Linked DNA regions of Homo sapiens. The protein of the gene in region 4 interacts with the protein of the main gene of each other region in a biochemical or structural test. Each region holds a gene or a part of one and is shown on either strand. Other genes may lie near its edges. The genes, in order: PIM1, RABGAP1, UBE2K and SENP1.

The links.
Region 1: of the proteins of SENP1 (region 4) and PIM1, one has a biochemical effect on the other in vitro, tested with the Homo sapiens proteins (one study listed by BioGRID).
Region 2: of the proteins of SENP1 (region 4) and RABGAP1, one has a biochemical effect on the other in vitro, tested with the Homo sapiens proteins (one study listed by BioGRID).
Region 3: of the proteins of SENP1 (region 4) and UBE2K, one has a biochemical effect on the other in vitro, tested with the Homo sapiens proteins (one study listed by BioGRID).

Annotation. Positions count from the first base shown.
Region 1 is NC_000006.12:37,165,156-37,173,318, forward strand, and holds the start of PIM1 (serine/threonine-protein kinase pim-1), read left to right. Parts: upstream 1-4,996; 5' UTR 4,997-5,147; coding exon of another isoform or gene 5,148-5,420; coding exon 5,421-5,502; intron 5,503-5,617; coding exon 5,618-5,724; intron 5,725-5,825; coding exon 5,826-5,876; intron 5,877-5,969; coding exon 5,970-6,336; intron 6,337-7,840; coding exon 7,841-8,017; intron 8,018-8,163. UniProt on the Homo sapiens protein: Proto-oncogene with serine/threonine kinase activity involved in cell survival and cell proliferation and thus providing a selective advantage in tumorigenesis.
Region 2 is NC_000009.12:123,069,459-123,077,354, forward strand, and holds part of RABGAP1 (rab GTPase-activating protein 1), read left to right. Parts: intron 1-891; coding exon 892-966; intron 967-1,953; coding exon of another isoform or gene 1,954-2,019; exon of another isoform or gene 2,020-2,043; intron 2,044-4,093; coding exon 4,094-4,219; intron 4,220-4,826; coding exon 4,827-4,970; intron 4,971-6,786; coding exon 6,787-6,828; intron 6,829-7,175; coding exon 7,176-7,304; coding exon of another isoform or gene 7,305-7,313; intron 7,314-7,896. UniProt on the Homo sapiens protein: May act as a GTPase-activating protein of RAB6A. May play a role in microtubule nucleation by centrosome. May participate in a RAB6A-mediated pathway involved in the metaphase-anaphase transition.
Region 3 is NC_000004.12:39,770,859-39,778,754, forward strand, and holds part of UBE2K (ubiquitin-conjugating enzyme E2 K), read left to right. Parts: exon of another isoform or gene 1-841; intron 842-3,975; coding exon 3,976-4,075; intron 4,076-6,823; coding exon 6,824-6,952; intron 6,953-7,501; coding exon 7,502-7,576; 3' UTR 7,577-7,896. UniProt on the Homo sapiens protein: Accepts ubiquitin from the E1 complex and catalyzes its covalent attachment to other proteins. In vitro, in the presence or in the absence of BRCA1-BARD1 E3 ubiquitin-protein ligase complex, catalyzes the synthesis of 'Lys-48'-linked polyubiquitin chains.
Region 4 is NC_000012.12:48,042,072-48,047,650, reverse strand, and holds the end of SENP1 (sentrin-specific protease 1), read left to right. Parts: intron 1-588; coding exon 589-673; intron 674-1,199; coding exon 1,200-1,295; intron 1,296-2,266; coding exon 2,267-2,329; 3' UTR 2,330-4,754; downstream 4,755-5,579. UniProt on the Homo sapiens protein: Protease that catalyzes two essential functions in the SUMO pathway.

The DNA.
Region 1 (8,163 bases), on a different chromosome or scaffold from region 4:
CGGGCGGATCACGAGGTCAGGAGATCGAGACCATCCTGGCTAACATGGTGAAACCCCGTCTCTACTAAAAATACAAAAAATTAGCTGGGCGTGGTGGTGGGCGCCTGTAGTCCCAGCTACTCGGGAGGCCGAGGCAGGAGAATGGCGTGAACCCGGGAGGCGGAGCTTGCAGTGAGCCGAGATCACTCCACTGCACTCCAGCCTCGGTAGCAGAGCGAAACCCCGTCACACACACAAAAAAAGAACAAGTGAAAATTAGCCCGGCGTGGTGGCTCACCCCTGTAATTCCAGCTAGGTGGGAGGCTCAGGCAGCAGGATCGCTTGGGCGCAGGTCTAGGCTGCAGTGCGCCGTGATCCATTGTGCCACTGCACTCCGGACCCTCGGTGACCAGAGTGAGACTTTGTCTCAAAAATAAATAAATAAAAATTAAAACAAAAAAAGAAATATTCAGTTTTTGTTTTGTAAAGACAGGGTTTCCCTATGTTGCCCAGGCTGCTCTCCTGAGCTCAAGCAATCCGCCTGCCTCGGCCTCCCAAAGTGCTGGGATTACAGGCGTGAGCCACCATGCCTGGTCTTTTTAAATTTAGAATGTTTCCTGTCTGGCCAGGCGCGGTGGCTCATGCCTGTAATCCCAGCACTTTGGGAGGCTGAGGCCGCCGGATCACTTGAGGTCAGGAGTTTGAGACCAGCCTGGCCAACCTGATGAAACCCGTCTCTACTAAAAATACAAAAATTAGTCGGGTGTTGTGGCGGACGCCTGTAATCCCAGCTACTTGGGAGGCTGAGGCAGGAGAATCGCTTGAACCCGGGAAGGGGAGGCTGCAGTGACCCGAGATCATGCCACTGCACTCCAGCCTGGGCGAGAGTGGGACTCTGTCTCAAAAACAAATAAACTAAATAAAATAAATAAAAAACTGAGTAAATTTTTTTTAGGAGATAAATGAGTGATGCAGATTCAATACGTCTCTACCTGATTAATTATAAATAGCGTATAGAGTCTTAGTTATACAATCCTAGTTATATAAATGCATTGACTAGACTTACAGACACTTTAAAAAATTGTGTACCGATATCACTTTCAAACTTTCTTCTAAACTTGTTTTTTAAAAAAATTTCGTGACTACAGAACTTGCTGAAGTCATTGTTTTTTTGTTTTTTTTTTTTGCATAAGCATATAGTCCCTGGATGAAGTCATTCCTTTGACAATGACTTGATTAAACCCATATCAGGCAGAATATGAAAACCACCTAAGGATTAATTTGGATATTGTTCAAATTAATATTAATAAATGCTCCTCTTCCCAGAGAACTGTTAGCATAATTGTGGCCTTTTATCCTTCCAAAAGCACTTGTCATTTAATTATTAGGGTGATTTTTCTGATTCTTTGTTAGATTCTTTGAGATAGCACAAATAGTGCTAATTTTATTAAGACTATATTTCGATAAATCAAAACATCAAGTTCCCTACTCTCGAGGAGTAACTTTTGACCCACAACACATCTGAATGTTTACTAATTATCTTTTAAAGCAGTTTTAAGTAAATCAAAGCTGTTTGCCAAGCAAGGTCCATGTTTTGTAACTTCCAGCTGTGAAGCCCCCACTATACAAAGTAGATATATTAAATGTTAATCACTTTAGCTCTAATTAAATATTTAGTCCTTCAAAGACCTAGAAAAAGTGAAAAAGGTTGAAGTTGATACATATTTTTTTTTCTAAAAGGCCTAAAAGATCTACTAGAAACAACTATTTTAAATCACATCTCTCCCCAAATGGTTAAAAATCGAACTATTAATCCAGTAGTTTACCTTTGGTACCTTCTAGGTGTAAGACCGTTTGGGCTGGGCGCGGTGGCTCACGCCTGTAATCCCAGCACTCTGGGAGGCCAAGGCAGGTGGATCACAAGGTCAGGAGATCGGGACCACCATGGCTAACACGGTGAAACCCCGTCTCTACTAAAAATATAAAAAATTAGCCAGGCGTGGTGGCAGGCGCCTGTAGTCCCAGCTACTCGGGAGGCTGAGGCAGGAGAATGGCGTGAACCTGGGAGGCAGAGCTTGCAGTGAGCCAAGATTGCGCCACTGTACTCCAGCCTGGGAGACAGAGCGAGACTCCGTCTCAAAAAAAAAAAAAAAAAAAAAAAGGCCGTTTTAAAAAACATCATCATCATAACCACGATCAACATTATTGCCATCATCATTGCTAATATTTATTAGAAGTTTACTCTGTACTGGGTTATATGCTTTACAAACAAGAGTTTTATTTGCTCCTTACAACAACCCTATGAGGTAGATGCTGTTATTATCTCCATTCTGTCTAAAGCTTAATAAGGTTAAGTAACTTGACCAATGCCTAACTAGTAGCTGCCAGATCCCGGAATTGAAACCAGGCTAACTTAGTTTAAAGCCCTTGCTCCCAACTTTTATGTTCCCGAAGCCCACTTAATTCATTTAAATTTGGTATAAATTGACTTTAATTATGGCCTTTTTGTTAGAATCCATTATAGTCTTCTCTTTTATCAACAAATGTTGGATAAAGTATGCATTCAGGGAGGCTGGGCATGGTGGCTCACACCTGTAATCCAAGGAGGCTGGGCATGGTGGTTCACACCTGTAATCCCAGCACTTTGGGAGGCCGAGGCAGGCGGATCATAAGGTCAGGAGTTCGAGACCAGCCTGGCCAACATGGTGAAACTCCGTCTCTACTAAAAATACAAAAATTAGCTGGGCATGGTGGCGGGCGCTTGTAATCCCAGCTACTTGGGAGGCTGAGGCAGGAGAACCAATTGTTTGAACCCGGGAGATGGAGGTTGCAGTGAGCCGAGATAGTGCCATTGCACTCTAGCCTGGGTAACAGGGCGAGATTCCGTCTCAAAAAAAAAAAAAAAAAGGGCATTCAAGGAATAGGAAGACAAAGTATAATGGAAAAGTAAATGAACAAAAAGGATTTAAAAAAACAAATCCCAACTGTCAGATTAGTGGACAGTGAACCAATGCTCTGAGTTTGTTCATCAATCTGTGGTAGAACTACAATTGTTTCCTAAAGAGTGGAAAGGCTTTGAATAAAAGTGGAGAGGTAGAGAGGGCTCTCCCAGGACAGGTTGATTGCTTCCGCAAAGGCAAAGGGTCTGTAAAGTGCTAGGCGAGTGGGAACAAGTGGGAATAGTTCTGTTTGACTACATTTGAGGGTTTGAGAAAGGAAAGGGAGGGTAGAAGGGATGGAAGTGGGAATCACATATGTTTAATGATGTCTTGTTCGGTGCCAAGGACAGTTTTAGACCCTGATAAGCGGAAAGCTTTGAATACTCAGGAGGTGAATTTGGGTCATTTCATCTCCTCTCTTAGCTGCTGTATGACCCTGTGCCATCCTATTTATGTTTCATTTTCCTATCTGCAAAAAGGGAGTAATTCTTGTTCCCTTGGGTTTTCTCCTAGTCATAAAAAATGAATGAGTTCGGCCACAGTACACAAACAAAAGGAAAATATGTAATATTTTGTAGGATAAATTCATAAAAGTTGTGGAGGATCTGGGCACTTTTATAAAGCAAGCACTGTAGAAAACTTTCAAAGGAAACATTTAAATTCACTAATGACAGCTATAGGGATCCTGATTTTTCCTTTAAATGGCAGGCACTTCAAAAAATTAAAATAGAATGTAGTTAGCTTTCAATTACTTAGGCCACTGACAATTCAATTTATGGATTATATAGTATTTTAATTTACTCATTTCACACGTCGTTATCAACTCTACATGAAGTTTAAAAGGACAAAGGATGCAAGTGGAATTGGTCAGTGTTCCGGGTTATTTCCAAGGGAGGCAGAGGGTGGGGGGTTTCCTTTGAGACAAGACTTGGGGTTGGCCAATAATTGCTGGTATTGCCTGCCTGGTAATAACAGGCTGATGAAAAGGTGACTACAACGTGAAAACTGGTTAAATCAAGCGCACCCTCCCACCCTCGTTTTAGATGAGGAATTTTCCGCCCTCACAGAAGGGGCTGAGGCAGCATCTGGCATCACAACACTAACATTTGCTTCGTGATTTCCTCTTTACCCGGCCCTTTGACACACATCCCTTCCCAGAAATCAGGATTCGCTGGTGCTTTTGCATTTCTAAAATGGGAATCCCGTGGCTGAGCTTTTAGCCGGCCGGAACGACTGAGGGCTGCATCCCTTTCCCGCAGGAGCGGGGCTCCCGCCTCCAGTTCTGTTCCAGGCCTGACTCCTCCACTCCCTCCGTGACTCATGTCCTGCGGATCCTTCGCCCCCGACGCGCCCCCCAACACACAAACCCCCAGAATCCGCCCCCAGCCTACAGCGCGACGTCAGCCCGCCCCAGCCGACTTGGAGGTCTCGGGTCTGAGTCACACAGAAAGACCACCCTCGTCGGCATCCCCACACACAGTCCGACACCCGGCGCGCCGGCCTCCCCGCCTGACACACTAACGCCCGTCGTCTCCGCGCAACTTGTTATGCTCCGGCTCGAGCCCTTGACCCAAAACCCTCAGCGAAACGGAGAGCCGCAGAGCCGGCCTCGGGCGGCCTTTGATGGCTTTGTTATTGTTTGGGTTTGAATCGATACGCCCCTCCCCATCCTTCCTCCCTCGCGGCCCTACACCCAGCTCCCGCCTCCCCTCACGCCCCGCGCCCCTCCCCCTCCATTTTGGCGCCTTTTCCTTCCCGCCACGTCGTGGCGGCGTAGAGACCATTCTGACCGCGAGAGCTGGGCGGGGCGGGGGCGGGGCGCGCCGAGTTATGCAGATCAATCGGCCTCTGGTTGGCTGGAGTAGCGCTGGCAGGGGCGGGGCCGGGGCGCGGCCACAGAGCGCGCGGGGCGGGGGCCGAGGGGAGTCGCCCAGTCCCGCCGCTTCCCCACCCCCTCTCCTCCCTCGGCCGGCCCGGCAGCCCTGCTCCCCGCCTTGGCCTCCCGGAGAGGCCCCGCCCCGTCCCCGCCCGCCGCGCCCTCCCCGCGCGCCCTCCCCGCCGGCGCGCTCCTCCCCTTTACTCCTGGCTGCGGGGCGAGCCGGGCGTCTGCTGCAGCGGCCGCGGTGGCTGAGGAGGCCCGAGAGGAGTCGGTGGCAGCGGCGGCGGCGGGACCGGCAGCAGCAGCAGCAGCAGCAGCAGCAGCAACCACTAGCCTCCTGCCCCGCGGCGCTGCCGCACGAGCCCCACGAGCCGCTCACCCCGCCGTTCTCAGCGCTGCCCGACCCCGCTGGCGCGCCCTCCCGCCGCCAGTCCCGGCAGCGCCCTCAGTTGTCCTCCGACTCGCCCTCGGCCTTCCGCGCCAGCCGCAGCCACAGCCGCAACGCCACCCGCAGCCACAGCCACAGCCACAGCCCCAGGCATAGCCTTCGGCACAGCCCCGGCTCCGGCTCCTGCGGCAGCTCCTCTGGGCACCGTCCCTGCGCCGACATCCTGGAGGTTGGGATGCTCTTGTCCAAAATCAACTCGCTTGCCCACCTGCGCGCCGCGCCCTGCAACGACCTGCACGCCACCAAGCTGGCGCCCGGTGAGAGCACCCCCCGCCTCCGGCCCGGGGATGCGGGGCGGCGGCGGGATCTCCTGGGTGGGGAGCTGGCGGCTCGCGGGCCGGCACTGAGTCCCCGTGCTTCCCCCTTTCCTAGGCAAGGAGAAGGAGCCCCTGGAGTCGCAGTACCAGGTGGGCCCGCTACTGGGCAGCGGCGGCTTCGGCTCGGTCTACTCAGGCATCCGCGTCTCCGACAACTTGCCGGTGAGTGGGCGCCCCGCGGTGGGGAGGGCGCGCCGGGCGGGGGGCGCACGGGCGTGCTTTAGCCCGGACGAGGGAACCTGACGGAGACCCTGGGCTTCCAGGTGGCCATCAAACACGTGGAGAAGGACCGGATTTCCGACTGGGGAGAGCTGGTGAGTGCCCTGCAGGAGCGACCCCCAGGATGAGTGGGTGGGGTGAGGGGCGCCCCCGACTCCCGCCCTAACGCGGCCCCCTCGCCCCTGCAGCCTAATGGCACTCGAGTGCCCATGGAAGTGGTCCTGCTGAAGAAGGTGAGCTCGGGTTTCTCCGGCGTCATTAGGCTCCTGGACTGGTTCGAGAGGCCCGACAGTTTCGTCCTGATCCTGGAGAGGCCCGAGCCGGTGCAAGATCTCTTCGACTTCATCACGGAAAGGGGAGCCCTGCAAGAGGAGCTGGCCCGCAGCTTCTTCTGGCAGGTGCTGGAGGCCGTGCGGCACTGCCACAACTGCGGGGTGCTCCACCGCGACATCAAGGACGAAAACATCCTTATCGACCTCAATCGCGGCGAGCTCAAGCTCATCGACTTCGGGTCGGGGGCGCTGCTCAAGGACACCGTCTACACGGACTTCGATGGTGAGCCAGGCCCGGGAGGGAGCTGCCCAGGTGACTCGGCCCGGCCCGGCCCAGTCCGGAGGCCTCGGCCAGTCTCCCGCGCCAGCCTTTTGTAAAGGTCATTGGGCCGCCTGGCTCGATGCTAGCCGGGGTGGGACGCAGGAGAGCCTCCCAGCGTAGTAAAGCCGGGGATTTTCAGCCAGCTGAACCTGTAATGTTTCTGGCATGATTTTATTCTTCAAGTGGAATTCAGTTAGTTCCAGGCTTTCCCGATGAATAAGAGGTTGTGGGCAACCGGCGGTAGCCCAGATTTTTCTAAAGTCTGACCCAGTTTCCCCGCCAGTAAAAGGATGGGGGCGGGGGAAGAGGTGGAAATTGATGCCGGTTTTGTAATTTTTGTTTTATTTTATAAGGGAGTTAGTTTTCTGTATGGTAGTTTTAGAGCTGCAGTTCTTAACTCCTTTCTGATCTAGGGAAGGTTAAGGAATAGGAACTATATTATTACTGGTGGCTTTTTTTTTTCTTTAGTGTTAAGGGGAGAGAGAGTCAGGAATGAATGTTGTGAAATAAGATCTGTCGCTGGTTTGAAAATTAGTTGGGTGTCTCCGCAGAGAGGATGAAAACCTATCCTAGGGAGGGGCTTGGAGCGGGTTCTTTCAGAAAAGAAGGAATGGAGAGCCTGAGATCAAAGCTGCGGAGGGTGGGTCATCATCTGAGCGGCTTAACCTAACAAACGACAGCCTTTCAAAACTTGTGACTCGGGCTTGTGGTTTATGTTTATTTGCCCTTGGAGGACGCTGGGTTGGGCTGCATTTTTTGTATTTAACAGTTAATGGCTGGCCGGGTCCTCCCATGTTTTTTCTTTCAAGTCTTTGCTGCCCCCTGGTGAGCACCAGCGGCATGGCCCCTCCTTTTTCTTTTACTACCCAAAGTTTGTAAACAGGAATCACGTGGTCTGAAACCAACCCTGCAGCTCTGTCTACCTTTCCAGTCTAGGGAGGAAAGGGTGTGGGTGTCTGCTCCTGCTTGCATCGGGTGGGGAGGAAGGCCTCCCAAAGGGCACCCTGACTTAGGATGTTGTGCAAGCATCCTTGCTTGGATCCTGTCGGCCATGAGAATCTCACCCGGGCTCCTGGGCAGTGGTGAATGCAATTTAAGGATAGTCTATGAGATACCTTTCTTGGTTGTGCAGACATGCATCCCTTCATCCTTCGCAGGCGGTCCTGCCTCACAGGGCCTCAAGTTTTGGGTCTGCGGCCAGCTGTGTTTGTTTCTTGGAGCAGTTCATAAAGAATTTCAGTTTATGGTTTGGGCTAGCAGAGAGGTGGGTAATGCTTTGGGTTGGAGAGATGCCGTAAGGTGCGCCTCCACTCTCCTTAGCCCAGAGGGAAAAATGGAGTTCACCTAGCTCCTGAGAGAAGGGATTTTTTTTTTTTTTAAAAGAAAGAGTTATATATACCACCCAGCTTCTTTGTGCTTGTTTTTGCTAAAAGTGTGTTTTCTCTTCTATTCCCTTGGCTCACAGGGACCCGAGTGTATAGCCCTCCAGAGTGGATCCGCTACCATCGCTACCATGGCAGGTCGGCGGCAGTCTGGTCCCTGGGGATCCTGCTGTATGATATGGTGTGTGGAGATATTCCTTTCGAGCATGACGAAGAGATCATCAGGGGCCAGGTTTTCTTCAGGCAGAGGGTCTCTTCAGGTAACTGATGGAAACCCCTGGCCATGGGGTTATTGGTCTTAATGGGGCTATTAGTCTTCATGGGACAGTCTTTGAAATTCTGGAGAGCTTCACTCTCCAGTAGATTCTGTCACCCTTGGCTTAGAATTGTAGGTGAGTGATTTACA
Region 2 (7,896 bases), on a different chromosome or scaffold from region 4:
TGGGCTTGGTGGCTCACGCCTGTAATCCTAGCAGTTTGTGAGGCTGAGGCAGTAGGATCACTTGAGCTTAGGAGTTTGAGACCAGCCTGGGCAACATAGTGAGACCCTGTCTCTATTAAAAAAAAAAAAAATGCAGTGTGGGCCAGGCACACTGGCTCACACCTGTAATCCCAGTACTTTGGGAGTCCAAGGTAGGAGGATAGTCTGAGCCTAGGGGTTAGAGACCAGCCTGGGCAACGTAGTTGAGATCCCATCTCTATAAAAAATTTTTAAAAATTAGGCAGGCATGGTGGTGCAAGCCTGTGGTCCAGGCTACTCAGGAGGCTGATGGAGCAGGATCCCTTGAGCCCAGGAGGTTGACGCTGCAGTGAGCCATGATTGTACCACTGCACTCCAGCCTGAGCAACAGAGCAAGACCCTGTCTCTAAAAATAAAATAAAATGCAATGTGGTAATAATATAATAATAACCATGCATGTATAGCAGGTGCCATAGAGGCAGAGAAGAGAGGAATTCATTCTGGGGGAATTGAAATAAGTTTGGTGCCTGAAGGAAGAGTGCATGTTTGAGGCAGAGAGGGAAAGGACATCCCAAGGAGAGGGAACATCATGAACAACAACAAGGAAATACGAAGTTTTTTTTAGCGCAGAAGTGGTTTTTCCTTAATCTTCCCTACTCCTTCGCCACAGGAAATGCAGTGGTGATAGCTGTATTCATTGTAAAGAAAAAGTTAAGATTGGAGAGAAGTATTGGCACCACTTACTGTCTGTCAAAATGCTGTCCCAGTGTGGGTAGCATCCTCCAGGGTTCTGTATTCAAGGTCCTATAGTGCCACCATGGCCCACAAGTGGCTACATTCATTTACATTTCCTCTGTGTGTTTTATTTTCCAGGCTTATTCTGTGTATGATGAAGAGATTGGTTATTGCCAGGGCCAGTCATTTCTTGCTGCTGTGCTCCTTCTCCATGTGAGTAATTAGGTCTCTGTTATGACTTAACACATGGCCTCCCTCAGCTTATACTAACCTTAGGCTTGAGCATGGTTTTATATTGGGTTTGGACAGACTCTTAAGGCATGAATTTTAACACCTATAGCTGGAAACTTTTTCCTTAAATTAACTTAATGTCATTGTGGAGGAGATATATGATGAGAATAAACGGCAATGTTGAAAACTGGTACAGGGGTAGACTTCCTTTTTATTAATAGGATGATTGGAGAGACTTTAATGTTGGTTGAACTCTTGGGGACGTTTTATCTTCTCTAAAGTAGCCGCTGTCATTAATACTTGTTTTGAGATTTAGGTATTGGGGTAGGAGGAAGGCGGAAAAGTTGGTTTTCTTTTAGTACCATTTTATTCATTCATTGGCTTAGCAAACACCTTTGCCCTCCACCTTTTTTATTTTCTTTCAAATCCACAGAAAACTCTAAACAGTGTTAAGGTGAACAGTCTTTATCTAGTTTACCAATTAATATTTTCCACACTGCTTTTTCTGTTTGTCTCCCTCTGCATCTCTTTTTTTCTCTTTTCTGCATAAACACACATTTTCTTTTTTACTTAAATTGTTTTTTGAAATTATTCTTGAAAGTAAATAACAAACATCAAGACTTCTAAATACTTGATCATATATATGCCTTCTGGGAGCACAGAATTCTGTATCATAATCATAATACCATGATCACATCCAAGAAATTCCACATTGATTCAGTAATGTCTGATACACAATACACATTCAATTTTCTCCCAATTGTCTACTCCATAGAATCTAGCTTTTTTTCTAATCAAGATCTAATGAAGATTCAAATATTGAATTGTCATTTCTCTTTATTCTTTTAATCTAAATTACTCCTTTGCCTTTTTTTGTGTTTCATGCCATTGATAGTTTTGAAAAATTCAGACAAATTGTCATATAAAATGTCCCACAGTCTTGATTTGTCTCATTTTCTCATGATTCAGTTTAAAATGCTTGGCAAGAATACCACACAGGTGATGTCAGCAAAGAGTTTTGAGTACCTGTTATGATCTGTACTGTGCTGAAGATCAGAGGTAAATAAGAGACATGGTCTCAATCCTCCTGGATACAGAGCTTGTGAATCCAACTAGCTTTAAGCACATAATCACACAAGTATATCATTTATTACTTTCAGTGGTGCTATTAAGGTATAATAAAAAGTTTGGTGTAAGATTGTAACAAGGGAGTCTTACTTAGATTAAAGGCTTCTCAGGGGAAGTGACCTGTAAGGAGCAGCCTGGAAAATGATAAGGGATATCATTTTCTTTTGCTCTTTTCTGTGTTAACTTTTCAAAATGTTGTTATGAAAATAATAGATCTATTTGAAAAGGGAGTAGAGAATAGAGTGTTAATGGGAAAGTGAATGGTACAGTATACAGAAGTCCTAAACTGGGGAAACACTTGGTGTATGGGAGGAACTGAAAGGAGGACAGTGTGACTGGAGTATCCTGAGTGACTGGGAGTTGAGGAGAGAGCTAGGGAGAGCTTTGAAGCCCAGATAAGGAGTCTGAATCTTGCTTTTCTAAGCAACAGGTATTCAAGGGTATTAAGCCATTTTGTGTAGATTGCAATACAAGTTTGAGTATCCCTTATTTGAAATGCTTGGGACCGGAAGTGTTGTGGATTTTGGATTTTGGATTTTGGAATATTTGCATTATACCGGTTGAGCATCCCAAATCCAAAAATCCAAAGTGTTCCAATGAGCATTTCCTTTTAGCATCATGTCAGTGTTTAAAAAGTTTCAGATTTTGGAGCATTTTGTATTTTCAGATATGGGTTGCTCAACCTGTACAAGTAAAACAAAAACCACTTTGGTTTTTCTTAACTGAACCCAGCTTGTTGCTATTGGTAGTCATGTAAAAATATGATAAAGCTATGACATGAATAAAGAGGTTGACTTTTTATTTTGTTTTGTTGTTTTAATGAGACTTTATATCTCAAAGTCCCACAAGCCTGGGTGATTTATCTTCGTTCTCACCTTCAGTTCAAGGACATTTATCCCCTTGAAAATGGGTTTTCCAATCAGACCCTCCATGTCTTGTTTTGAACTCTTGCTGCTTGCCAGAGTGTTATAAGTGCTTGTTTAGAGTGAGGGGAGATGGGCTACTTAGCATCAGAATCACCACTGTGGGTTAGGCCACATCTCCTTGCATGTGGCAAAGTGAAGTTGCCTTCCATGACAAAGACTTCAAAGATCTGGGCTTTTGCCCCAGATACTCTTAACTTACCAGTAATGATCTGCTATGCTTTTCTCACTTATTACTTAATCTGATTTGCTCTTTAGTTCTGCTTTCTTCTCAGTGATTTCTGTGCTCAGCCCGCCTCCATCATCTTGTTCCATAGAAGCCTGCCCACCTTCTTGACTTTTTTGAAGGCTTGCTACATTCACACCAATCCTTAAATAACATTTCCAGTGCTTCTTTTTTCTCTTTTGAAAATATCTTGCCAAGTTCTCAGGGAAATAATTATCCATAAAACTATGGAAAATGTAGGTATTATTATAAATGTAAATAGAAGTGAAGGAGGCTTTTGTAGTACTTCAAGCATTACTGCAAGCCTTAGAATATGTAAGGTTCTTCTAAAACAAGCTATATTTTTAACAGTGAGGAAGAAAAACAATTTTGCTAGAATGAAATAGCAGCTAAGGGAGGAAAAATGGTTAAACAGAGGTCCCAGGATTTGGGAAAGATGACACCTACACTGTATATCAGCCTATTTCTGCTCAGCTCAAATTCTGTCCTTTCTACAAAGTCTGTTTCTGACTGCCTTAGGCAGATACAGGCCTTCCTGTTCTTGTATTATCACTGATGTCTAATTCCTATTACAGTTATTTTAATACTGGCTGTGTGAGAGACTCCTTGAGGACAGGAACCATACTGACAAAGAGTAGTCATTGTTAACTATTCCTTGTTTGAGTGAATAAATGTTTTAAACACAACCTTAGGCCTGAGTTTCTGCATAGCACTAAATTTTCTGGTAAGGCAATAATATAAAGCTGGATTTAATATCCTGAGAAAACTTCTGTATGTTTTGTGATTCCCCACCGCCATCCTCCCTACCCAACAACTTGCCTATCTGTTACAGATGCCTGAAGAACAGGCATTCAGTGTTCTGGTCAAGATCATGTTTGACTATGGGCTCAGGGAACTTTTCAAGCAAAACTTCGAAGATTTGCATTGCAAATTTTACCAGTTGGAGCGCCTCATGCAGGTAAAAAGAGAAACCAGCTTGTGTTTGACAAAAAGAGTACAGGACTAAGGAGCACCAAATTGAGGAAATGGTGCCAGGGAGCATTGGTAATTGCCTTAGCGATCCGTGGCTAAGGATGGGTTTCATTTTTATCCTTTATCACTATGTGATTATGATGCAAAGATTAACAAAGTGTTAAACTTTCACACCTCATGGATGTGAGCTGATAAACTCCCAAAAGATCAGATGACTTTGTTAGGGGTCTTTTCCACAGCTAACTCAGTCAAGAAGTACTCCCCAAGGCTCTGAAGCTGACTGGTTAGGAATCTCATAACAAAAGTGAAACAAACTTTCCCAAATGTTTTTTACTTTGGAGAGAAAAACAGGCTTTCCAAATACTTGTCACCATTTTGGGGATTCCTCTTTCTTTAGAACAAGTTTGTGGTCTGGAAAAAAGAGTTGAGTGCCAGCTTAATACCAGATGATAAGTGTTCTAAGCACTTTGGAGATTTTTAGAAAAACACAAGTATTTTACTTTTTTGGCCTATTCCTGGTAGATTTATGAGCCTCCTTAGTGGGAATTGGACAGATGCATATGTGCCCAGAACTAATTGGTTTGCTATTTCAGGAATACATTCCTGACCTGTACAACCACTTCCTGGATATAAGCCTTGAAGCACACATGTATGCCTCCCAGTGGTTTCTTACTCTTTTCACTGCAAAATTCCCTCTCTACATGGTCTTCCATATCATCGACCTGCTTTTATGTGAGGTATGTATCAGAGGCCACAGCACTTTGGCTTTTGTTTGCAGTGTACTTGAGGAGAACAGATTCTGTTTTGAGTGTCAGCTCTGTCAAAACAGAATTGGTCTCTTTAATTATTTTATTTTATTGCTAGGAAATCTAGGTTTAAGTGACTTCCTTGGACTAAAGCTAATGATCGTATTTGTTAAAGGTGTACTCTGAAAAGACGTACTGAATTAGACATTTGTATTAGTTCATATTAGTTTTGGCTGTATTGAATGAAGAAACCCAAAGTAACAGTGATTTTAAAAAATAGCTTTTTGCTCTCTTGTGAAAAAAAGTCAATGTTGGCAGTAGCGTGCCTTCCCCTCACTCTGGCTGTTAGCCGTATGGAGGAGTAGCACACCAGCCATTATATCATATTCAAGCCAGGAGGATTAGAGGATGGGAGAGGGTGCCTCCTCTGTTTTCAAAAGAGACTTCCTGGAAGTTCCATCCAGTATTTCCACTTTATGGTCAGAACTTAGTTACATGACCACACCTAGCTGCAAGGGAGACTTTTTAAAAAATAAGCTGAGCAGGAATTTGCTAAAAATTAGAGATTTATTACTAAAGAGAAAATAAGATATTAGAGTAAATAACAGTCTTTGCCATGACGTAATTTTGGATTTTGTGTGGTGTGTTTAAGAAAAACATAATTATAAAAATAATATATGTTTATAGAAAATATAAGTAAAAATAATTTAAAATACTACAAATCCCACTGTCTATAGGTTACCTCCTTTAACAGTTTGGTTAAAAGCAGTATCCTTTCAGCCTTTTTTATGTGTTCATATATGTGTATGTATAATTACTATACAGAATAGTATGGTTTCCATATGGATGGAACACTATATATATTATGGTTCTCCTATGTGTATATTTAAAAATATGATTGTTATTTATACTCTTTGGTATCCTCTTTTTAAATTTCATATACTTGAACATACACATCTGTACTATCCTTTTTAATTATGCTATATTCAAAACATACAAAAATTCATAAAGAATTTGTATCTACCACTCAGCTTGAAATATTCTAAGAAACAGAAGAAATAAATATTACCAAATATGCCGTTTTTCTTAGTTGCTGCCAAGTATCCCATTATTTGGATGTGCTATACTTTATGTAACCAATTTCTAATCACAAACCTTTAAATTGTTTCTAGCTTTTTAGTAGTATAAACAACCATCTGTTAAGTAGCTACTAAAGGCCAGGTGGCATGCTAAGTAATTTACATAAACTTTTCAGCTAATTATCTCAGAAAACCCATAGGAGAGTATTAGTTATGGAAACTGAGGCCCAGCAGCTTAAGCAGTTTAACTTGATCAACAGATGTTAGTGCTTCCTCTCCTTTGTTCTTAGCCCCAGGATTTGCAGAATGGAGGGAGCCTTGAGCAGATTCAGTTCTGGAATATAGGGCTTATCGACAGAGTGGTTGCTGTGCATGGATTGGGACAGCACAAGATAAAGGAAAAGTTCCCCAGGAGTTATTTCCTGAGAGATCACAACTTTATGACTGATCTTTTGGTTTGGAAGCATGGAATGCTTTGGAAAAGCATTTCTTATTATTGAATATGAGAACAGGGCAAGAAAAGCTCTTCTCTCAGAAAAAGGGGAAGCTAGGTCTTTAAGCAGCTTTTCAATGGCCCTTTAGTTTTTATTTTTCAAGGTAGTTCTGAGATAATGCATTTCCTTCCTTAAGTTTTCACAATTTCTTTAAAAATGTGGGGTATAAGGACAAATAGCATAATAGTCGAGATATAAAAACTGACAGTGTTCTTTTTGTCTGTTCTCTTTCAGGGAATAAGTGTTATTTTTAATGTCGCCCTTGGATTATTAAAGGTACTCATTTATTTATTAGCTGAGTTATCTGTCATTCCCTGCTCTGCACTTGCAATACATTGGTTGTAGTCTCATTCTGAGCAGTCACTGTGCACTAGCATTACCCATGACAGTGGATGTATGCAGGTGGCTCTGACAAAAGCGAAGAAATATCTTCTGGGGATTATAAAAGTGCTGGAAATCTAGCATTACCCCTAACAGTGGATGTATGCAGGTGGCTCTGACAAAAGCTAAGAAGTATCTTCTGGGGATTGTAAAAGTGCTGAAAAGTGCTGAGAATATAAAAAACTTCTTGTGCATCCTTATAGCAACACATTTTTTCTATATGTGTTTGTATTTTCTTCAAGACTTCGAAAGATGACCTGCTGTTGACAGACTTTGAAGGTGCCTTGAAGTTCTTTAGGGTTCAGCTTCCTAAGAGATACCGCTCAGAAGAAAATGCAAAAAAACTAATGGAATTAGCCTGCAACATGAAGGTAAAATAATTTTGCATTAGTTAAGATTCTGTTTTTCACTTAGTGTCTCACTATTCCTGATCATTTATAATACATAATTATTTATGTATTATATTTATAACATTTATAATACATATTAGTGTTAACATTTATAATATATAAATAATATTAATGATGTTTTCTTCTGTATTATATAACTCTTAACCTTTTTTTCCCCAAAATACTTTCCTATATATTATAATCCTACGAATGAAATCTCGTTGTCCCCCCAACCGCCAAACTATAGAAGAGTATTAATATCCCTGTTTTGAGACAAATCAAAACAAAAAGAGGTTGTAGTTCCCTAGTTGTACACCTGGTTAGTGGCAGAATTCAGGTTTCAGGTTTCATGATTTCTTCTACTGTGCTGGTTTTTTGTTTTTGTTTTTTTTTTTTTCTTTTTTTTGAGACAAGGCTAGAGTGCAGTGGCACAATCATAGCTCATTGCAGCCTGGACCTCCCAGGCTCAAGCGGTCCTCTCACCTCAGCCTCCTGAGTAGCTGGGACTACAGGTATGTGCCACTACACCCAGCTAATTTTTAACTTTTTTTTGTAGATTTGGGTTCTCACTATG
Region 3 (7,896 bases), on a different chromosome or scaffold from region 4:
TTCAGCTCCAAGTCCTCATCCAGTGGGAACTCCAGCTTCACTGGCCGCAGGAGTGGAGGGGATAGAGGAGGTGGGGGGTGGGGGCTTCGGGGCTGGCTTTGGGGTCCTGGCTGGAGGGAGGAGGGACTTGTTGGCGCTGACGCTGCTCACAAGGCTAGCCTCACGGACCCCATCCTCTTTGAGGCCTATTTTGGGCTCAGTGAACTGGCTGAGGGCATTCTGGCATTTCTCCACCACGTGCTCCATCTGCAGGTAGGAGGTGGCTGTAAGATAGTTGACGATGTCCCTAACAGCGAATTCCAGGGTGCCCGTGTAGCAGGAGAGAAGCAGGTCGGCCACGATGCGTGCACTGTGCATCAGGGAGACCTGCAGCTCCGAGCTGGGGTTAAGCAGGAACTGGTCCCGCAGGAACGGTGAGCAGGCGGCTAAGATGACCTTGTGGCCTCGAAACTTGAGGCTGTCGGCCACAATGGTCACGTCGCAGAACCACTCCTCTGCCCGGAGCTTGTTCATGTTCCGTAGCGTAGCGGCCTAGTGGCCGGGCAGCTGGAAGCGCAGGACTTCACCCCAGAGGCCATTGTGGCGGGGGTGGGCAACCCTGGCCCGGTTCCGCGCGCTGTTTTTTTTTAATCCCCTATTTTCCCCACCCCCGCGGGGCCGGAAGCGCCCCCCACACACGGGCAGAGCCAGGGCAGCATGTAGGCGCAGGGCGGGAGGGTGTATAGGGCGCGCTCGCGCTGGCGGGGCCGGCTCCACGTGGGCGTAAAGGGGTAGGGGCGGGAGCGGCTCGTGCGGTGTGTTCCAGGCCTCGCGCGCGCGGCGACGGCGTCGGCTAGGACTCAAACCCTGGAGTTTCTGATTCAGTAGCTCTGGGATAGAGAAAACTTCCCAAGGGATGCTGATGCTGCTGGTTGGATGAACAACACTGAGATCATTGCTTTAAGACATCCATTGTTGGTTGTTGGCAATAACTTAACTTTTTGGCTAGGGGTGGAGGTGTAGGAGACAGTCTGGCTGTCTCCCTCAGGCTGGAGTGCGGTGGCGCCATCTGGACTCACTATAACCTTCGCCTCCCAGGTTCGAGCGATTCCTGCCTCAGCCCCTCAAGTAACTGGGATTACAAGCATGTGCCACCACATCTGGCTAATTTTTGTATTTTTGGCAGACAGTGTTTCGCCATGTTGCCCAGGCTGGTCTCAAACTCCTGGCCTCAAGTGATCTGCCTGCCTCGGCCTTCCTAAATGCTGGGATTACAGGCGTCAGCCACTGCACCCAGCCTAAATTAACTTTTATCGTAGGCATCTAGGGAAGTACTATTTATGTACCAAACTTGGGAAAATTGAGAAAACAGTCACTAATTTTTTCTATTTTGTGGTTCAAATCAGGAACCCAGTTGAAAAAGGCTGGTTTAGAGTAATTGGCTAGTTGTCGTGGCTCACACCTATAATCCCATCACTTTCGGGGGCTGAGGTGGGAGGACTGCTTGAGCTCAGGAGTTCAAGACCAGCCTGGGTAACATGGTGAAACCCTGTCTCTACCAAAAAAAAAAAAAAAAAATTGTTTTTAATTAGCTGGGCGTGGTGGTGTGCACCTGTAGTCCCAGCTACTCAGGAGGCTGAGGTATGAGAATCACCTGAGCCAAAGAGGTCAAGGCTACAGTGAGCCTTGATTGTACCACTGCACTTTAGCCTAGGCAGCGTGAGACCCTATCTCAAAAAAAGAAAAAAAGAAGAATGATCTAATTTACATGGTAAAAATGGGCATTCTCTTTACATGTAACATTTTTAATATGTCCACATATTTATACATACCTCTATTAATTGATAAAGCAACTTTTTTTTTTTTTTGAGATGGAGTCTCGCTCTGTCGCCCAGGCTAGAGTGCAATGGCATGATTTTGGCTCACGGCAACCTCCGCCTCCCGAGCTCAAGCGATTCTCCTTCCTCAGCCACCTGAGCAGCTGGGATTACAGGCACATGCCACCACGCCCAGCTAATTTTTGCATTTTTTGTAGAGATGAGGTTTCACCATGTTGGCCAGGCTGGTCTTGAACTCCTGACCTCAGATGATTGCCCGCCCTGGCCTCCCAAAGTGTTGGGATTACAGGTGTGAGCCACCGCGCCCAGCCAGTGAGACAACTTTTTTTAACAGAAATGCCAAGAATTATTGCTAGACAGGTAGATACTATTTTTTAGACAAATATTAGCTTTATAAAGATATTTTCCTTATAAATACATTTAGAATCATAAATTAAGTGATGTAGTTTAATCCAAAAAACTTGTCCTGTTTCAGAATGTTATGGAATGATTTCATATTTTCTTGAAAATATGGCCGGGCGCGGTGGCTCAAGCCTGTAATCCCAGCATTTTGGGAGGCCAAGGCGGGCGGATCACAAGGTCAGGAGATCAAGACCATCCTGTGTCTCACGGTGAAACCCTGTTCTACTAAAACTACAAAAAATTAGCCGGGCATGGTGGCATGTGCCTGTAGTCCCAGCTACTTGTGAGGCTGAGGCAGGAGAATTGCTTGAACCAGGGAGGTGGAGGTTCCGGTGAGCCGAGATCGCGCCACTGCACTCCAGCCTCGGCGGCAGAGTGAGACTCCATCTCAAGAAAATAAAAGAAAAGAAAAAAGAAAATATATTTGTTTCATAGTATCTTGTTTTTAGAGTGCCATTGAAAGAAAGCCTCACATGCTATTAGTACTAATGATTTATCACTTTAACTTTGTTTAGAGAAATGGATAGAAAAATAAGTGAGTGGATAAAACTAACAAGAAGGTGGCTGGGCGCGGTGGCTCACGCCTGTAATCCCAGCACTTTGGGAGGCCGAGGCGGGCGGATCACGAGGTCAGGAGATCGAGACCATCCTGGCTAACACAGTGAAACCCCGTCTCTACTAAAAATACAAAAAATTAGCCGGGCGTGGTGGCGGGCGCCTGTTGTCCCAGCTACTCGGGAGGCTGAGGCAGGAGAATAGCGTGAACCCGGGAGGCGGAGCTTGCAGGGAGCCGAGATCGCGCCACTGCACTCCAGCCTGGGCGACAGAGTGAGACTCCGCCTCAAAACTAAACTAAACTAAACTAACAAGAAGGATCTTGGCAACAAGAAAAACAAGGACAGTTCAGAATTCGAGTTGTCTTAAGAAATAGAAAAGCTGGCCGAGTGTAGTAGCTCACACCTGTAACCCTAACCTTTGGGAGGCCAAGGTGGATGGATCACCTGAGCTCAGAAGTTCGATACCAGCCTAGGCAACATGGCAAAACCCCGTCTTTACGAAAAAAGGAAAAACAAAAAAAATGCTGGGTGTGGTGGTGTGTGCCTGTAGTCCCAGCTACTCGTGAGGCTGAGGCAGGAGAATCGCTTGAGCCCAGGAGGCGGAGGTTGCAGTGAGACAAGATAGTGCCACTGCCCACTCCAGCCTGAGCGGCAGAGCAAGACACTGTCATTAAAAAAAAGAAAAAAGGCCGGGCGCAGGTGGTTTTTCATGCCTGTAATCCCAGCACATTGGGAGGCCAAGGCGGGCGGATTACGAGGTCAGGAGATCGAGACCATCCTGGCTAACACTGTGAAACCCCGTCTCTACTAAAAAAAAAAATACAAAAAATTAGCTGGGCGTTAAGGCGGGCCCCTGTAGTCTCAGCTACTCTGAAGGCTGAGGCAGGAGAATGGCGTGAACCCGGGAGGCGGAGCTTGCAGTGAACCGAGACTATACCACTGCACTCCAGCCTGGGCGACAGAGCCAGACTCCGTCTCAGGGGAAAAAAAGAAAAAAGAAATAGGCAAATTGTAAAGTAAGGAAGAAAATATATGATAGGCAGATACATAATTATAAATGTCTATGACTTAACTATATAATTAAGATAAAGATCTAAGTAACTTTTAGCTCTACAATTTTTTAATTTTTATTAAGAAAATACTTTGCTTTTGCCTGCAGAGCCCTCTTAATTGGGATATTTTCATGTTTTGCATTTTAGGGCAGCTGCAATGACTCTCCGCACGGTATTATTGTCATTGCAAGCACTATTGGCAGCTGCAGAGCCAGATGATCCACAGGATGCTGTAGTAGCAAATCAGGTAAGATGGCCGCTTTTGAAAGACTTTCTTATATTATGTATGAGTCTCTAGCCACTTCAGTGGTTTGCACATTAACACATGAGCATACTCTATTGAAACTAAATTTTGAAATGGTTTTCTTTCTTGTGGTAGGATTATTTTGTCAGGTGTAATAGTGAAAATAGACTTTTAACATCCTAGTTTAATTGGATATAGATGCTGTTTTCCTAACATGAGTATTTTCAAACACATAAAGTCAAAAGAATTACATAGTGAACACCCATATTCCTACCATCTAGATTCTATGATTAATGCTCGTGTATGTGTCCATCTTTTTATCCTTCCTTTCAGTGATGATCCCTCCCTGCTAATAATTTTAATCACCTCCTATCATGGGACTTATGTGACATGGCACAGTTTCCAATGACCTTGTAATTTGTTGAACAGAATAAATATTTTTCATTTCGCTTTCTAGCTACAGTGGCTGAGTTTATTAGTTACAACGGAGACTGGACCTAAGTTATTAGTATCTGACCTGTTAAGAAACAGTTTGCTGGCCAGGTGTGTTGGCTCATGCATGTAATCCCAGCACTCTGGGAGGCTGAGGTGGGTGGTGGATCACTTGAGGTCAGGAGTTCCAGACCAGCCTGACCAACGTGGTGAAATCCTGTCTGTACTAAAAACACAAAACTAGCCTGGCGTGGTGGCACACACCTGTAGTCCCAGCTACCTGAGAGGCTGAAGTGGGAGAATCGCTTGAACCTGGGTGGCAGAGGTTGCAGTGAGCTGAGATCACACCATTGCACTCCAGCCTGGGTGACAGAACGGGACCCTGTCTCAAAAAACAAATTTGCCAACACCTACTCTAAGCCATTGGAATATAATGGACATTTTTTTTTTTAAACTTAGAAAGTTTTTCTTCTCTTGACTTCTAAGATATTACCCTCTTTTCTTCCTCACTTCATAGCTGTTCTTTGTTAGTTCCCACAATTATTTCCCTTCTTACTCGTCTTTCTTAAATGTAGTTCCTCAGTTCTGACCTTGTTACCTTTACTTTCTGTACACACTCACACTTGGATGATCATATCTGTACTGATGTTAGTACCTGTACATTGATAAAATGTTTAGGCTTGCCCTCTCTCCTAAGCACGAGAGCCTGGTGTTTAACTAAATTGGTAGGTGATGGTATCATAGAATGATAGGTTTGTAGGATTTATGATACTGCATTCAGTTTTGGCAGTGTTACATTCAGGTATCCAAGGAACATTCATATGGTTAACCACCCAAGTCACAGCCTTTGGAGTTTTTCTCTGTGTCTCCTTTGCTCCTGTTGATAACCATTCCCTGTATCATTCTGTCACTATATTTACATAATTACTCTGATTGCCATAGGTCACTTTTAAAAAATTGTTTCTTTTCAACTGCTCTGATAGATCTCCTTTTCTCAACCTCTTTCTTCCTTTCTCCATCTTCTACATTGCTATCAGGTAGCTTTATAAAGTGCAAATCTTACTTCACTAACAAAAACTTGTTCGTAGCTCTACTGTCATCTACTTGAGTCCAGATTCTTTAGTTTGCAGAGTTTTTCCATGATCTGAACTCTGCTTTATTTCCTAAATTCTTGTTTTCTTCAAACTCATGCTTTTTCAAGCATTGCATTCATTTTTACATATTGTATCCAATCTACCATATTTCCTCTGCCTGAGGAAACTTCCTCTTGGCAAACTTCTTTAACCTATAAGATTTTAATTTATATATTATCTTTCTTCTTTTCCCTTGAAGATCTGTTTATGTATATATGTATATATCCTTGTCAATATATTCTGTTATTTGTCTCAGAGTACTTCCAATTAGGGTTTTCCATGTTTTATATATGTGCTATTTGTTCATATTTGTTGTTATAAGCATGGCTTGTGTTCCAGCTTTGCTTTCCTATTGAGCTCTAAGCCTTACACGTTGAGGTTGGACTCAAGGGTTTCTTTTAGCTCCTAAAATAGTTCAATAATTTGACTTATTTCCTTGTGATGAATAAGTGGTAGAAACTAGATTTATCGTTTTAATATGTAATAGATTTAAATATATAAATTACTTTTAAAAGAAATATTAAAGTGAATTGAATAGTTAGTAATTTATACTTTGCTTTACTAAGTAATGGTGGTTCCAAAGTATTTGATAAATTTACCTCTTTCCAATGCATATGGGAAGTCTTTTAATAAAATTACTCTATTGTGAGTTTATAATCATCTCAAGTTATGTAATAAGTTAGGACTTTGCATGTGGGGTTTCCATAAATCACTGTACACTAATGCAGCTGTAAGAAAACAGAAGAATCTAGTTGTATTCTAGCCTGGGCTGTGGGTAATACAAAAGCTGGTTACATCGTAAAAAATTATTCTAATGTCCACATATTTTTATAAGCTAGTAATCTGTGTTCAGTTGTATAATGTTTGCTGCTTTCCAGTGTTTGGAACATCTCTTAATACCTCACTTAACCTAATTTTAGTCTTGCTAGTTATATTTGTTGAATTTGGAGATTAAAGTAGATTAATGTTACTTGTCTTTATTATTGTCAACACAAATTGTGAGTCGAAGCTTCAGGTTAAGTGGTCTTTTCTCGAGTGACATAGGTTGTCTATAATGCAAAGTGAATCACATTTTAAATGTAGATTTGTTTTATTTGGAAAAGTAGGATTGTAGGCGATTAAGAGCTGAAATATATCAAATATTATAACTGTAATGTCATGTCAATCAATTTTTCCCCCCATATAGTACAAACAAAATCCCGAAATGTTCAAACAGACAGCTCGACTTTGGGCACATGTGTATGCTGGAGCACCAGTTTCTAGTCCAGAATACACCAAAAAAATAGAAAACCTATGTGCTATGGGCTTTGATAGGGTAAGTACATAAGGGCATGTTGATTTTGATATATTGATTGATTTTAAATTATTGCAAATTCTTGGCTGACAAAAGTGGTTTAGAAAATAAGAGAAATTCGCAGCCTGGGCAACATGGCGAAACCCATCTCTACAAAAATTAGCTGGACATGGTAGTGAGTGCCTGTAATTCCAGCTACTCTGAAGGCTGAGGTGAGAGAATCCCTTGGGCCCAGGAGGTCGAGGCTGCAGTGAGCGATAGTCATGCCACTGCACTCCAGCCTTGGTGATAGAGCAAGACCCTGTCTCAAAAAAAAAAAAAAAAAAAAAAAAAAGGAAAATAAGAGAAAATCTAGTTTTGGTAAACATATTTTCTGTTTTCAAAGTCAGTGATTTTTTTATTTTTACTAATTACTGTCATTGATTTTAGAAGCTTTCCATGCACTGCAAATGTAAATCAACTTACAGAAAAGAAACAAGGTGTTAATTCCCAGTATAAAGAGTGAATGATTCAGTATTGTTTAAATGTTTCCTTGAGATTTAATTTCCTGTCCCCTTTTCTTCTCTACAGAATGCAGTAATAGTGGCCTTGTCTTCAAAATCATGGGATGTAGAGACTGCAACAGAATTGCTTCTGAGTAACTGAGGCATAGAGAGCTGCTGATATAGTCAAGCTTGCCTCTTCTTGAGGAGCACCAACATCTGTTATTTTTAGGATTCTGCATAGATTTCTTTTAAACTGGCATTCTTGCCTAATGATGTTATCTAGGCACCATTGGAGACTGAAAAAAAAAAATCCCTGCTCTGTAAATAAAGCTAATTAAACGTCTGTGTAAATTTAAAAAGGGGAAATACTTTAATTTTTTTTCTTAATAGTGTAAAAATTCCCTGAGCTAAGCTAAAACCATGGAAGAAACATGCTACTTTAGTGTTTAGCAGTGTACCAAGACTAGCAAGAGTTTGCTT
Region 4 (5,579 bases):
CCAGAATGCAAATCTCTTTATGCTCCACCTGTTTCATTTTCCAAAATACCTATTCCTCACTGTACCACTCTGATGGCCAGGAGGAAGTACATTCCACAATGGTGAACAGTTTGCACTTAAAAGAGAGCTCTATTGAAGGTATGCACTCAATACATTGTTGATTTGGATTTAATTTTTAGATAGGAGAGCCAAGCCTAACAGTAGTAAATAAATACCTCAATAGTACCAGAAAAACACTTTTCTTCCATTAGATTGAGTTCTAAAGGACCATATAAACCAAGGAAAAGAATAAAAAGAATTGTTCCTCAGAAGGAATGGTAGGTAGAAGGAGCTTAACTGTTAGAGGCAGAGGTCATGTTCCTTTTGAGTTGACAGAGTGGACATTAGAAGAGACAAGCTAGAAGAGGCATGCTCAGCTCTGGAGAAAACTTAACAATCCAGGGATTCCCTGCCCAGTATTATATACTCTTTTCCTCAGAAGAGCAGATGAAACAAATTTGTTCCTAGGTATTGTCAGCCCCATTCTTAGTGTGGCAGCTGTCATCGATGTTCCCCACTGCTTATCTCATTCTCTCCTGATACCTTTAGGCAATACCTAAAGCAAGAAAGCATTGACAAGAAAAGGAAAGAGTTTGACACCAATGGCTGGCAGCTTTTCAGCAAGAAAAGCCAGGTACCTTTCATCTTGATGAAATAAAAGTCCTAAAAGTAGGGTATTTGGGGAGGAAAGAATTTTACTGCTTAATTCCCAGGGACCACCTGTGTTCGTGTCTAGCCTGACTTCAGCTTGGTTGGTTGGTTTCTGGGGGAGGATAAATTAAGCTATCCGTAGGAAAAGTGATAGTGTGTTTCTTATGTAGAACTAGGTTTTCTAAATGCCCAGATATTTTACTAAGCTTTTCACTCCTAAGGGGAATGTTTGCTGATTATTTGGCCTCTGGGGGAGGGAGCAGTTTTTATACCCTTAGGTGCCATGGGAGTCGGAGATATTCTCCTGTTTGATTAATACAGAGTACACAGACCTGACTGGAATGTTGTATTTTGTTTCTTTGAGCCTCTGTTGTCCTGACTGGGGGGCCAGAGTCATCTGTTTGTAATTTAGAGAAACCTGTACAATTTATATCTTTTGGTTCTTATTTTTAATCTAAGAAGGAAAGAAGCTTGGAAAGATGTCATTTTTTTTGTTGTTGGTCTTCCAGGAGATTCCTCAGCAGATGAATGGAAGTGACTGTGGGATGTTTGCCTGCAAATATGCTGACTGTATTACCAAAGACAGACCAATCAACTTCACACAGGTGAGCTGAGCCTTCCATAGGGAGCTCTAGGATTACTTTGTCTCCAAGCTGCCCTGTAGATGTTTTTCTCTCCAGTTGTTCTCTTTAGGGGCCTCTACCCTAACCTTTAGCATGCTTCAGCCCATGATTCATAACACTGATGGTTACTACCTGAATCACATCACAAAAGAAAGAAAATTAGTGATAAGCCACGTCCTGGGTTACCACACCTCAGTTATTGTAGTAAAGGTTTCAAGAGCAGAACCTTCTCTGCCTGTCTCCTCTACCTACTGTAACTTCTAGAGAGAACTGGGACCAGAGCAGGTTTCTTTAGTTCCCTTGCATTTCGTTAGTAGTCAGGTTTGGGAATAGGCCATACCTCAATCTCCTAGTGTAATTTGTTATGCTGCCCCCTCCCCTGACCCCTCACTTGATGAATCTGGTCAGTCTTCTCTTAGAGAGTGATTGGTCATTTCTGTCCATGTGGTCTCTCAGACCAAAGTGGATTGAGATTAGAGATTATGGTTTATTCTGATGTGTTCTCCACTTTTACTTCTGTTTGAATCAGTGACTTTACCAGATTTTTCTACCATAGCCCTTTGTCTAGACCAGCCTGAGCTGACTCTTCAAGTTCCCTTAATTCTTCTAAAAGGTGAATTTTTTATTTTTAGGCCTAGGCTCATATCCTCTTAAAAGTTCAACATAGAAGACTTATTAGACACCATTCTCAAAATTCTTAGAGACGTGGGCATAGCCTGGGGATTCCTGGAAATACCCAGTGTAACTTCTAAGGCTATAATGGTGAAAAATAACAATAGAAAAAGCAATGAAAAGAAAAAAACTACATGTAACCAAGAATGAATAATTTAAAAGACCAGAAATACAACTGAGACTGTTTGTTGAAAACCTTGCAAAAGAAAGAAGTATGGGGAAAGGCGTATCAGGTCTAGACAAAAGCATTGAAAATTAAGGGTGTCTCTGTGTCCCTACAGCAACACATGCCATACTTCCGGAAGCGGATGGTCTGGGAGATCCTCCACCGAAAACTCTTGTGAAGACTGTCTCACTTAGCAGACCTTGACCATGTGGGGGACCAGCTCTTTGTTGTCTACAGCCAGAGACCTTGGAAACAGCTGCTCCCAGCCCTCTGCTGTTGTAACACCCTTGATCCTGGACCAGGCCCTGGCGAGATGCATTCACAAGCACATCTGCCTTTCCTTTTGTATCTCAGATACTATTTTTGCAAAGAAACTTTGGTGCTGTGAAAGGGGTGAGGGACATCCCTAAGCTGAAGAGAGAGACTGCTTTTCACTTCTTCAGTTCTGCCATCTTGTTTTCAAAGGGCTCCAGCCTCACTCAGTCCCTAATTATGGGACTGAGAAAAGCTTGGAAAGAATCTTGGTTTCATATAAATTCTTGTTGTTAGGCCTTACTAAGAAGTAGGAAAGGGCATGGGCAAAAGGTAGGGATAAAAACCACCAGCATATACATGGACATACACACACACCCACACACACAAACACACACACACACACAATTTTCACGATGTATGGTCAGGAATGTGACTGTAAACTGGACTTTGGGGCCCAGGCATAAGTCCCTTCCTCCAGGACCTTTCCTATTTATATGTCCCTATACAAAATCCATCTGCTTTTATACGTAGCTGTTTTATCATCTGTAGCTTCATCCTATCCGGAGGCACAGCACATGAGCCCTGGACAGGTCCCAAAGTTCCAAGCAGTCCTTTCCGTGAAAGCAGGGGTTTGCATGTGCTACCAACACATGATACGGGGAAGACCCACCCAGGGAGCGGTTTCAGTGGCGCAACAAAGCACCACTTTTACTGTTGCCTACTTCTGACCAAGAAGAAAAAGGACCTTAGTATTTAGCATAAAATTCCAGCGCTGGATGAATGCAGATCTAGTTTGGTCTGTGGCTAGTTTAAATATGTTTCTAACCACAGAGAATTTCATATATATATACATATATATATACACATACATATATATATATATATATGTATGTATAAAATTTCACAGGGATATGCTTTTTTTTTTAAAGACTGAATGTGTTCACCATTTAGCCTGTAGATTTATTTCCATTTTCCAAATTCCAGCACACAGAGATCCCAGCCCCTATGAGTAGGGTGTTTGTGGACTACCTAATGGAATATTTTTGAGGCCTGGATGAACTTTGCCATATGGGTAGAGGTTACAGAGGGAGGTGATATTTTCAGCTAAAAAAAAAAACGGGTGGAGTTTGGACTGATCAACTTGAGATTTAAAAACTGCTATTCCTTTTGTTCTTTCTAGCATCTCTCCCCACCCTCTGAGAGCTCCTCAGGCTTAGATAGTGAAGTGATCAAATGCCAGTGTCATTTTGTACTTAAGTTCCAAAGTAGGAACATTTTATACTTTTTTCTGTATTGTAATAGGTAGTTTTGTATGAAATCTTTTCTCCTCTCCCGTTGTACCGCATTCTTTCCAGCATTGTGCTTTTTCCCTGGGCTTATTTGAAAATTTTACTGTTTTATACAAGCTCGTTTAGTACATTTTTCTATGTTTTACCACAAGTTACAATTTGAAAAGAAAACTATTTTTTTTAAATATTCCATTGTTAACTGAATGTTACTGTTTCCACTCCAGCAACTACATGTCCTCCCTTCAACTGCCTGCCTTTTGGGGAAAGACCACCTTTTGTGTGTTTGTTTTTTCTCTCTCTTTCTTTCCCTTTCTCTTTCTATCTCTCTTTATTTTTCTTTCTTTTTCTTTGTTTTTGAGTTTTCTATAGGAAATAAATAGCTTTCTATATATGAGTTGCTGGGGACCTTCACATTCTCTTTTAGAAAGCTGTGGCATGCAGTCTCATTGCAGGACTCCTGGAATATTGTCTGGTTCTTGGTATTTACTGTATGTAAGCAACAACTTGAAAGGTGGCAATATGGTGTCGATTTGGACTATGAATCAAAAGACCTTTTTCAGGTTCTTTCACTATTGTCTGGGGGACTCAGAACAAGATTGTTCTCTGTATTTATTGTTTGTCCATTTAGGTAACATCTGTCTTACCTTCCTCACAGACTTTGTACAGACCAAAGCAACAAATATTTATTGCCATGTATAGCAGAAAATGAAACATGCAACAAAAGCACTTTGAAAAATATATAAGGAATTGTTGAGCCTGTCTGAATTTGGGCCCCCTTTCTGACTAATGCAGTTTTGCACAAGGTAGAAGTTAGTGACCCTGAGACCATCTTACCACCCTGGACCTGGTCCAAATACAGACTTACACAGTGGACCATTCTTTCCTGAGCTAGCCAACAAGAGCAGGAGTAGTATCTGGAAACTTTCCCCTTTGTTTAGGGGTAGGCTTTGATGACCAGGAAAAAAAAAAAGGTATTTCTGCATTTTATGGCCCAAAGGCATGTTATTAATATCTTATGTAATTTACTTTAAACTAAATAAGACTTTTTTCTCCTGTGTTCCCCTTTCTCCTGTGTCCACTGCTCATATTCACCTGCCTTCCCTAAAAAAGGAATATTTGAGGGATGATAAGCACTAGATGCCAGCTATAGAGACCTCAACAGAAACCATAATCCCAAGAATCACTCCGAGACCCTGAACAGAGAATATCAGACAGACCTTTCTTACCCATTTGAGAAACACATGGTCTGAGGCACAGAGGCTAGTTACATCCCATTTGTCACCTGGGACCCACCATTGCTCCCAGGAGTCCTATTTAGGGTTGAATATAAGAGTACTTTTCCCTCATCCAGTCTGGGGAATTTGTGTCAATTGACTCCTCTGTATGAGATGCTTCATACTTCTATGTGGAATTAATTTCTGTATTCTTTAGCCACTGTAATCATGCTAGCATCTTCTATCCACTGCCCCCAGCAATGTTAGCACCAAGATCCTGAGGTAGAAACAGAGATAACCTGGAAAAGCACTTCCACCAACCCCATCTCATAGCCTGTCCATTACTGCCTGGTTTTACATGGCCCTTAAGTGGCTCTAGTGGGTAAAGGGGGAAGAGTTCACTTGAGAGCCCCAATGTTTTTAATGTTTCAGTTTCTGGTCCTGTGCCATCCCTCCAGCTTTTAAATATGTCTTGCTGGAGTAAGAGAGAGGACTGACACCTGGGGTTTCTTTTTGTTTGGTCCACCTGGATGGACTAGCATGAGGTGGAATATGATGCTTTCACCCTGGGAGTTCACATACCCAAGAGAGTCAGAAAAAGAGGTGTTAGGCTATTAGGCCCTATTGTTAAACAGGCCACGTGCTGAACTACTGGGAAGGGTACCTTATT